Linked DNA regions of Homo sapiens. The protein of the gene in region 1 purifies or fractionates together with the protein of each later gene. This does not show direct contact. Each region holds a gene or a part of one and is shown in the gene's direction. Other genes may lie near its edges. The genes, in order: SMO and ST13.

Region 1 (3,821 bases):
CTGGCAGGAACTTGCTCTGCACCCTGGAATATACTCTGAAGGCTGGGAGCAGTCAGAGGCCTCAGACAAATAATCATAAGAGTTAACATTTCCTGAGCGCTTACTACATGACAGGTACTGTGCCAAGGGCATTTAAAGCATTATATCACTTTTCACAGCAGTTCCATGAGGTAAATCTATCATCCCCATTTTACAGATGAGGCAACTGAGGCTAAAGATAAAGTACTTTGCCCAAGATCATACAGCCAGGAAAGAGTGGAGCCAAGATTTGGACCCAGGCTGGGCAGTTGCCATGCACATGCCCCTTACCTCTCTACTATGTTGCCTTCCCCCGAAAAGAGTGGTTACCTGTCTCTACCACCCCCAGCCTGGAAATGTGACCGGCACCCATGTTGGCTCTCACATCCTCATATTCTCTCCTAATGCAACTTCTTGCTTGGGAAATAGATATTGCTGAAGCAGGGTTGATTCAGGAAGGGCTTCTGTGATGGGCAGGGCGGAGGACTAGGCTGGGGACGGGTGCTGGGAGATTGCCGCCTGTTTCTGTCTTGCTGACAACATTTTTCCCCTCTCCGCACTGGACAGAGCCTCTTCTGTTCCTCTCCATCTGACTTCCTGCTTCCTCCTCTGGCTTTGGAGTGCCTGGCTCCTCTGACTACCTCTTCTTAAGCCCCCATCTCTTCTCTCTCACTCCGCTTGGTAAGAGGAACAAGGGTTCTGGGGTCTGGGCAAAGGGAAACATCTCCTGGCTCTAGCAAATGGGCCCCGTGAGAGTTGGGTGCACCCCTGAAAAGGTAAATCCACCCCGGGGAGCTCTACCAGAGGCATTACCACTCCCTAGCAGGGCATCTGGAAGTGGCAGTTATTTTCTTAAAACTTAAATGATAGTAAGCATACAGAATAGCGCACAGATCATGAGCTTGGTTTCCACAAGGTGAATACACTCATGTAACCAGTATCAGATCAGGAGATAGAATATTCCCAACATCCCATGTAACCAGTACCAGATCAAGAAGTAAAACATTCCCAGCAGCCCAGAGGTTCCTCTCCAGGCTCCCTTCTAGTCACCGTCCCTAGAGTAGAGGGCTGGGGCATTTTTGTTTGTCACAATCACTTCTGGGTTCTACTGGCATTGAGTTGGCAGAGTCTAGTGTCTGCAATGCATGGGACAGTCCTATGGTATAAAGAACTGTCCTGCCCAGATGCACTGTTGAGAAACACTGTACCTGCCAGGTCTGACCAGTGATGGGCTGCAGTGTGGCAAAGGCCTGGAGGACAGGGGTGAAGCTGCGTCTGTGGGTCAGAGTGAGGAGGGGCCTTCACTGCAATGCTGTTGCCACCCCCAGGCCTCCGGAATGCCCCCCGCTGCTGGGCAGTGATCCAGCCCCTGCTGTGTGCCGTATACATGCCCAAGTGTGAGAATGACCGGGTGGAGCTGCCCAGCCGTACCCTCTGCCAGGCCACCCGAGGCCCCTGTGCCATCGTGGAGAGGGAGCGGGGCTGGCCTGACTTCCTGCGCTGCACTCCTGACCGCTTCCCTGAAGGCTGCACGGTGAGTGCTCTGTGAGACAAGGTCCAGGCTCTCTGGGTTGGGCAGGACCGGGTATAGGGCAGGGTCCAGTGGGGAGCAGGGGAGCCCAGAGCTTTGTCTCCTGGAGACCCTGAGCCTACAGCCATGGGGTCAACAGGACACAAACTCAAACTGCAGCTCACTGGCTGGATCCGTCTATTAGGGATTCTCTATTTATTTATCAATGATCACATGTTCAGCAAAATGTTTTGAGCACTGGCTGTTGGGTGTTGTGGTGTTACGGGCATCACGGATGACAGGAGCCTATCAGGAAGTTTCTCATGTATGTTGGGAGTTAAGGCGCGAGCGTGTGAAACAGCTAGAGCCACCAAGACAGGGGACGTGAGCTAGTTCTGGGTGGTGCAGGAGAGGTCTTCAATGAAAATAATAACAGTAATAATGATGGTAATAATACTAATTAGTCCTGTTTACTATATGCCAAATGCCATTATAATAAGCTCATGCCTGTAATCCCAGCACTTTGGGAGGTCGAGGTGGGCAGATCACCTGAAGTCAGGAGTTCCAGACCAGCCTGGCCAACGTGGCAAAACCCTGTCTCTACTAAAAATACAAACATAAGCCTGATGTCATGGTGTGCGCCTGTAGTCCCAGCTACTCGGGAGGCTGAGACACGAGAATCGCTTGAACCCGGGAGGTGGAAGTTGCAGTGAGCTGAGATCGTGCCACTGAACTCCAGCCTGGGCTACAGAGTGAGACTCTGTCTCAAAATAAATAAATAAATAAATAGGCTGGCCAGACACAGTGGCTCATGCCTGTTATCCCCACCACTTTGGAAGGCTGAGGCGGGTGGATCACTTGATGAGGTCAGAAGTTCAAGACCAGCCTGACCAACATGGTGAAACTCCGTCTCTACTAAAAATACAAAAAATTAGCCAGACATGGTGGTGGGCACCTGTATTCTCAGCTACTTGGGAGGCTGAGGCAGTAGAATCGCTTGAACCCGGGAGGTGGAGGTTGCAGTGAGCCAAGATTGTGCCATTGCACTGCAGCCTGGGCGACAGAGCCAGACTCTGTCTCTCTCTTTCTATATATATAATATATGTTTATTCATTTAACCCTTAAACCATACCATAAGGTAAGTACTACCATCTTAGAAATGGGGAAACTGGCCGGGCGCAGTGGCTCACGCCTGTAATCCCAGCACTTTGGGAGGCCGAGGTGGGTGGATCATGAGGTCAGGAGTTCAAGACCAGCCTGGCCAACCTGGTGAAACCCCGTCTAAAATACAAAATTTAGCCGGGTGTGGTGGTGGGCGCCTGTAGTCCCAGCTACTCGGGAGTCTGAGGCAGGAGAATTGCCCGGGAGGCAGAGGTTGCAGTGAGCTGAGATCACGCCACTGCACTCCAGCCTGGGCGACAGAGCGAGACTGTCTAAAAAAAGAAAGAAAAAAAGAAAGAAAGAAGTGGGGAAACTGAGGTACAGAGAGGCCAAATAATTTGCCAAGCCAGCCCTGGGATTCAGGTCCTGGAAGTGTATCTCCAGCCACCCTGCCATGCTACCTAGATACCTTTCCCTAAACAAGAGGCTCGTCCCTGAGCTGCCTTGACACCGTCTTTTCCCATCCCTGGTGCCAGAATGAGGTGCAGAACATCAAGTTCAACAGTTCAGGCCAGTGCGAAGTGCCCTTGGTTCGGACAGACAACCCCAAGAGCTGGTACGAGGACGTGGAGGGCTGCGGCATCCAGTGCCAGAACCCGCTCTTCACAGAGGCTGAGCACCAGGACATGCACAGCTACATCGCGGCCTTCGGGGCCGTCACGGGCCTCTGCACGCTCTTCACCCTGGTCAGCCGCGGGAGGGCAGGCCCGGGGGGCCCTCAGCCTGGAACGTGGGAAGAGAGCCAGAGGGAAGGGGGGCAAAGAGGTCTTGGTGGGGGTCCCCAGGGAAGGGTCATGATCAGAAGGGTCTGGGGCTCAGTTAAGGGTGTCTGTGTCAGCAGAATAACCCTAACCTCACAGAATGGCCCACTTCTCTCTTCTAGGCCACATTCGTGGCTGACTGGCGGAACTCGAATCGCTACCCTGCTGTTATTCTCTTCTACGTCAATGCGTGCTTCTTTGTGGGCAGCATTGGCTGGCTGGCCCAGTTCATGGATGGTGCCCGCCGAGAGATCGTCTGCCGTGCAGATGGCACCATGAGGCTTGGGGAGCCCACGTAGGTGTCTTGGGGACCCAGAGGTGAAGGTACAGGGAGGAAGGCTGAAGTGTGCGTTTACCCCAAAGGGAGCAGG
Region 2 (3,821 bases), on another chromosome or scaffold:
TTCGGCTCACTGCAACCTCTCCCTCCTGGGTTCAAGCGAGTCTCCTGCCTCAGCCTCCTGAGTAGCTGGGACTACAGGCGTATGCCACCATGCCTGGCTAATTTTTTTGTATTTTCAGGAGAGACAGAGTTTCACCATGTTGGCCAGGCTGGTCTCAAACTCCTGACCTCGGGTGATCTGCCCGTCTTGGCCTCCCAGAGTTCTGGGATTACAGGTGTGAGCCACCACGCCTGGCCTGAATCAAATTATCTTTGATATCATTAGAGGTCTTACATTCTACTGGCAGTTGTTTGAGTGCTAAATTGAAGATCTTTTACTTTTTATAAAATGCCTCTTTAGTCTTACTTTCTACCAGTTTCTAAAACTACAATAAATTTTTTAACCAACTCTCCACCTAAAAGTGTTTTCTTTTTTGTATACAAATCAAACTTTGATAGACAAGCTTAGTTGCTGTTAAAAAATGGATTAAAATTTTTTTACCGTGTTAAAGGGCATAAACTTTGAGCTATAATCTGAATAAATTCCAGAGATCCAGTATACAGCATGACTATAATACTGTATACTTGAAATTTGTTAAGAGACTGGATCTTCAGTGTTCTCACCAAAAACAAATAAATATGTGAGATGGATAGTTATTAATATGATGGGTGAGAATCATTTCATTATGTGAGGTGCAGTAAAGTGAAACACAATAAAATGAGGTATGCCTGAGGTCAGGCACGGTGACTCACACCTTTAATCCCAGCACTTTGGGAGGCTGAGGCGGGTGGACCACCTGAGGTCGGGAGTTGGAGACCAGCCTGACTAACATGGAGAAACCCCATCTCTACTAAAAATACAAAATTAGCCAGGTGTGGTGACACATGCCTGTAATCCCAGCTACCTGGGAGACTGACGCAGGACAATTGCTTGAACCTGGGAGGCAGAGGTTACGGTGAGCCAAGATTGCGCCACTGCACTCCAACCTCGGCAACAAAAGCGAAACTCCGTCTCAAAAAACGATATGCCTGTATGTTAAAACATCGCATTGTACACCATATACATATATGTATATATATAGTTTGTCAGTCATGCGTCAAGTTTTGTTGTTGCTGGACAGTAATTCTGATTTTAGGTGGGTGATTTTAAATTTTTTTTTTTTGACTAAGGAAACTTCTTATCAAATTAACTATTTGCAAATGTGTTCTTTTTAAATGATACGTGCGTGTGTGTGTGTATATATATATAAAACTCGTTTTCCACTTGCAACAAATTACAGTTGTCATTTAACTGACAACTGTTAAATGACAATTTGAAAAGCAAGATACTGCTTTTCATTCTTTACTGTTTTGGTTGTAAGTACTAGCTTTGGTCACTACTGTACATATGGAAACTAAATTTATTTTTAAATCTAGCCTTGGTACTTGATTCTGCATCAGTAGTAAGCCTTTATTTTAAAATTAAAACTTGTCCATGCTACTTTTAAAAATGAAAATAATTAGGGACCAGGTGCAGTGGCTCATGCTTGGAATCCTAGTGCTTTGGGAGGCCGAGGTGGGAGGATTTCTTGGACAACATAGTAAGATCCTGTGCCCCCCCCAAAATTATTTTAATTTTAAAAAAGGAAAGTAATGAATGTAATTATATTAAAATATTTTGATTTACGTTGAAGTATCACTGTAGCTTACCTGCATATTTTTGAAAAACATAGTACATCAGTGTGTAGAAAAAAATTATTTGAACTAAATCAGTTTGTTGACAATGGTGTATTTATATACAATGACTAAATCAGTGGTGTATTTATGTGTAATACTAGAAACTGCACATGTCAACAACCCCACTACAACCTGATAATAAATATCTTACATGATGTGACAGTTAACGTAAAGTGTAGTCTTACCAAAGTAACGAAATGTTTAATGGGAACATATTTTAAAATGCATCAATACTTAAAATAATTAATTGTAGTAGTCATAGTATGTCAGTTTTTAATAATCTTGGGAGTGGCTACTATATTGTACGGTGCAGGTCTTATTGTCATTTTCTCGACTTTGGCAGAAATTGATAAAGAAGGTGTGATTGAACCAGACACTGATGCTCCTCAAGAAATGGGAGATGAAAATGCGGAGGTAAGTTCGGTGACTTGATTTCCTGCTTGTTCTAAGAAATGTGAAAGGTCCTGCTGTTGCAATGATTTTATGACACGATTCTTCCAGGAAAAGCGCATAGTAAATCTTTCTCTGACTTCAGGCGTTTTAGGCAAGCATTGTATTTTACTACTTAAAATACTAATGAAAATAAATACTGTTACTTTCTGTTTTATCTGTTTTTTAAGTTTGCATCTGGTGTGACTGCTTGCACTGTAACGCAGAATTCACTTAAAATACATACCTATTAGTGGAGTTGCTCTTGATGGAATATCTAATGCCAAATTGTATTACAGAATGGTTTGTCATAACAGGCCCTCAAGGGAGTGAAAATTGGTTCTTGGGAGGAGGGCTTAAAAAAAATTCTATATATTACAATGGTTAGTGGTCCTCCAAAGACTCATAGAATATTAATATGTAGTGTATCTGTGGTATTAAAATTGGGGATATGGAAATGAGGAAAAGATGTCTAAAAAGGCTCCTTAGTGTCTGATAAAAATTTGAGAAACACTCTAATATAGTAATAGCAGTTTTAAAAGATTGGTTTTTATCCTCAAAACTTGATATTATCAGATTTCATCTTTGCCAAGTATTGTGGGAAATGGTATCTTTTTGTGGCTTTTAATTTGCATTTTCCTGGCCAGACAGGGTGGCTCACGCCTGTAATCCCAGCACTTTGGGAGGCCGAGGTGGGTGGATCATCTAAGGTCAGGAGTTTGAGACCAGCCTGGCCAACATGGTGAAACCCCGTCTCTACTAATAATACAAAAATAAGCCAGGCATGATGGTGCACGCCTGTAATCCCAGCTACTTGGGAGGCTGAGGCAGGAGAATCACTTGAACCCAGGAGGCAGAGGTTGCAGTGAGGTGAGATCGCACCCCTGCACTCCAGCCTGAGCGACAGAGCAAAACTCTATTTAAAAAAAAAAAAAAAAATGCATTTTCCTGATTCCTAATGAGGCTGAGCATATTTAAATGTTTATTGGCTGTTCACTGGCATTTGCGAACTCCTGTTTAAACTTTTTCCACTTTTTGCTGGATCTTTTTCTTACTGCTTTGTATTTCATTTCAATATTCTGGATGCTAATAATTTGTTGCTAGTGCTGCATATATTTTCTGCTAGTTTGTGACTCATCTTCACTCATCTTTCTTCATGTTGTTTCAAAAATAGTATCTTTTAATGCAGATATTTTCTGCTTTATTACTTTGAGGTTATAATTGCTGTAGTGCATTGCTTTTTCTCTTCTGAACATTTTATACACTCACCTTTCACCTTTAATCTACCGGTCCCACCAAAACTAAAATACACTGTTTCTGAATATTGTGGGTCTGTTTCAGGAGTTTATTGTTCTGCTTGTCTATTTTTTTTCTGTTCACTAATGCCACATCGTCTGATACTAAGTCTTGTTATTTTGTAGAACAAGGACCCCCAAAACTTTTTAGTCTTTTGGCTGTTCTTGGCTTTTTGTTTTTCCAAGTAAATTTTAGAAATAGGTTGATCAAGTCTCCCCGCTTCCATTGGTTTTTTTCCCCTTTGTTAGAATTGTGTTAAATCTAAATCAAGTTCGGGAAAAGATATATCTCCTCACCATTGAGATAAACTATCCATAAATAATGTTATCTGCCCAATTTTTAGGTGTTTTTAAAATATTTTAATAACTTACTAACGTGTTCCCCATAAGTCTTGTGCTTTGT

Evidence for each region.
Region 2: the proteins of SMO (region 1) and ST13 fractionate together in Homo sapiens (co-fractionation; one large-scale study listed by BioGRID). This does not show direct contact.

What each region holds. Positions count from the first base shown.
Region 1 is NC_000007.14:129,202,038-129,205,858, forward strand, and holds part of SMO (protein smoothened precursor), read left to right. Parts: intron 1-585; exon of another isoform or gene 586-699; intron 700-1,346; coding exon 1,347-1,552; intron 1,553-3,165; coding exon 3,166-3,375; intron 3,376-3,572; coding exon 3,573-3,745; intron 3,746-3,821. UniProt on the Homo sapiens protein: G protein-coupled receptor which associates with the patched protein (PTCH) to transduce hedgehog protein signaling. Binding of sonic hedgehog (SHH) to its receptor patched prevents inhibition of smoothened (SMO) by patched.
Region 2 is NC_000022.11:40,843,126-40,846,946, reverse strand, and holds part of ST13 (hsc70-interacting protein), read left to right. Parts: intron 1-2,037; coding exon 2,038-2,108; intron 2,109-3,821. UniProt on the Homo sapiens protein: One HIP oligomer binds the ATPase domains of at least two HSC70 molecules dependent on activation of the HSC70 ATPase by HSP40. Stabilizes the ADP state of HSC70 that has a high affinity for substrate protein.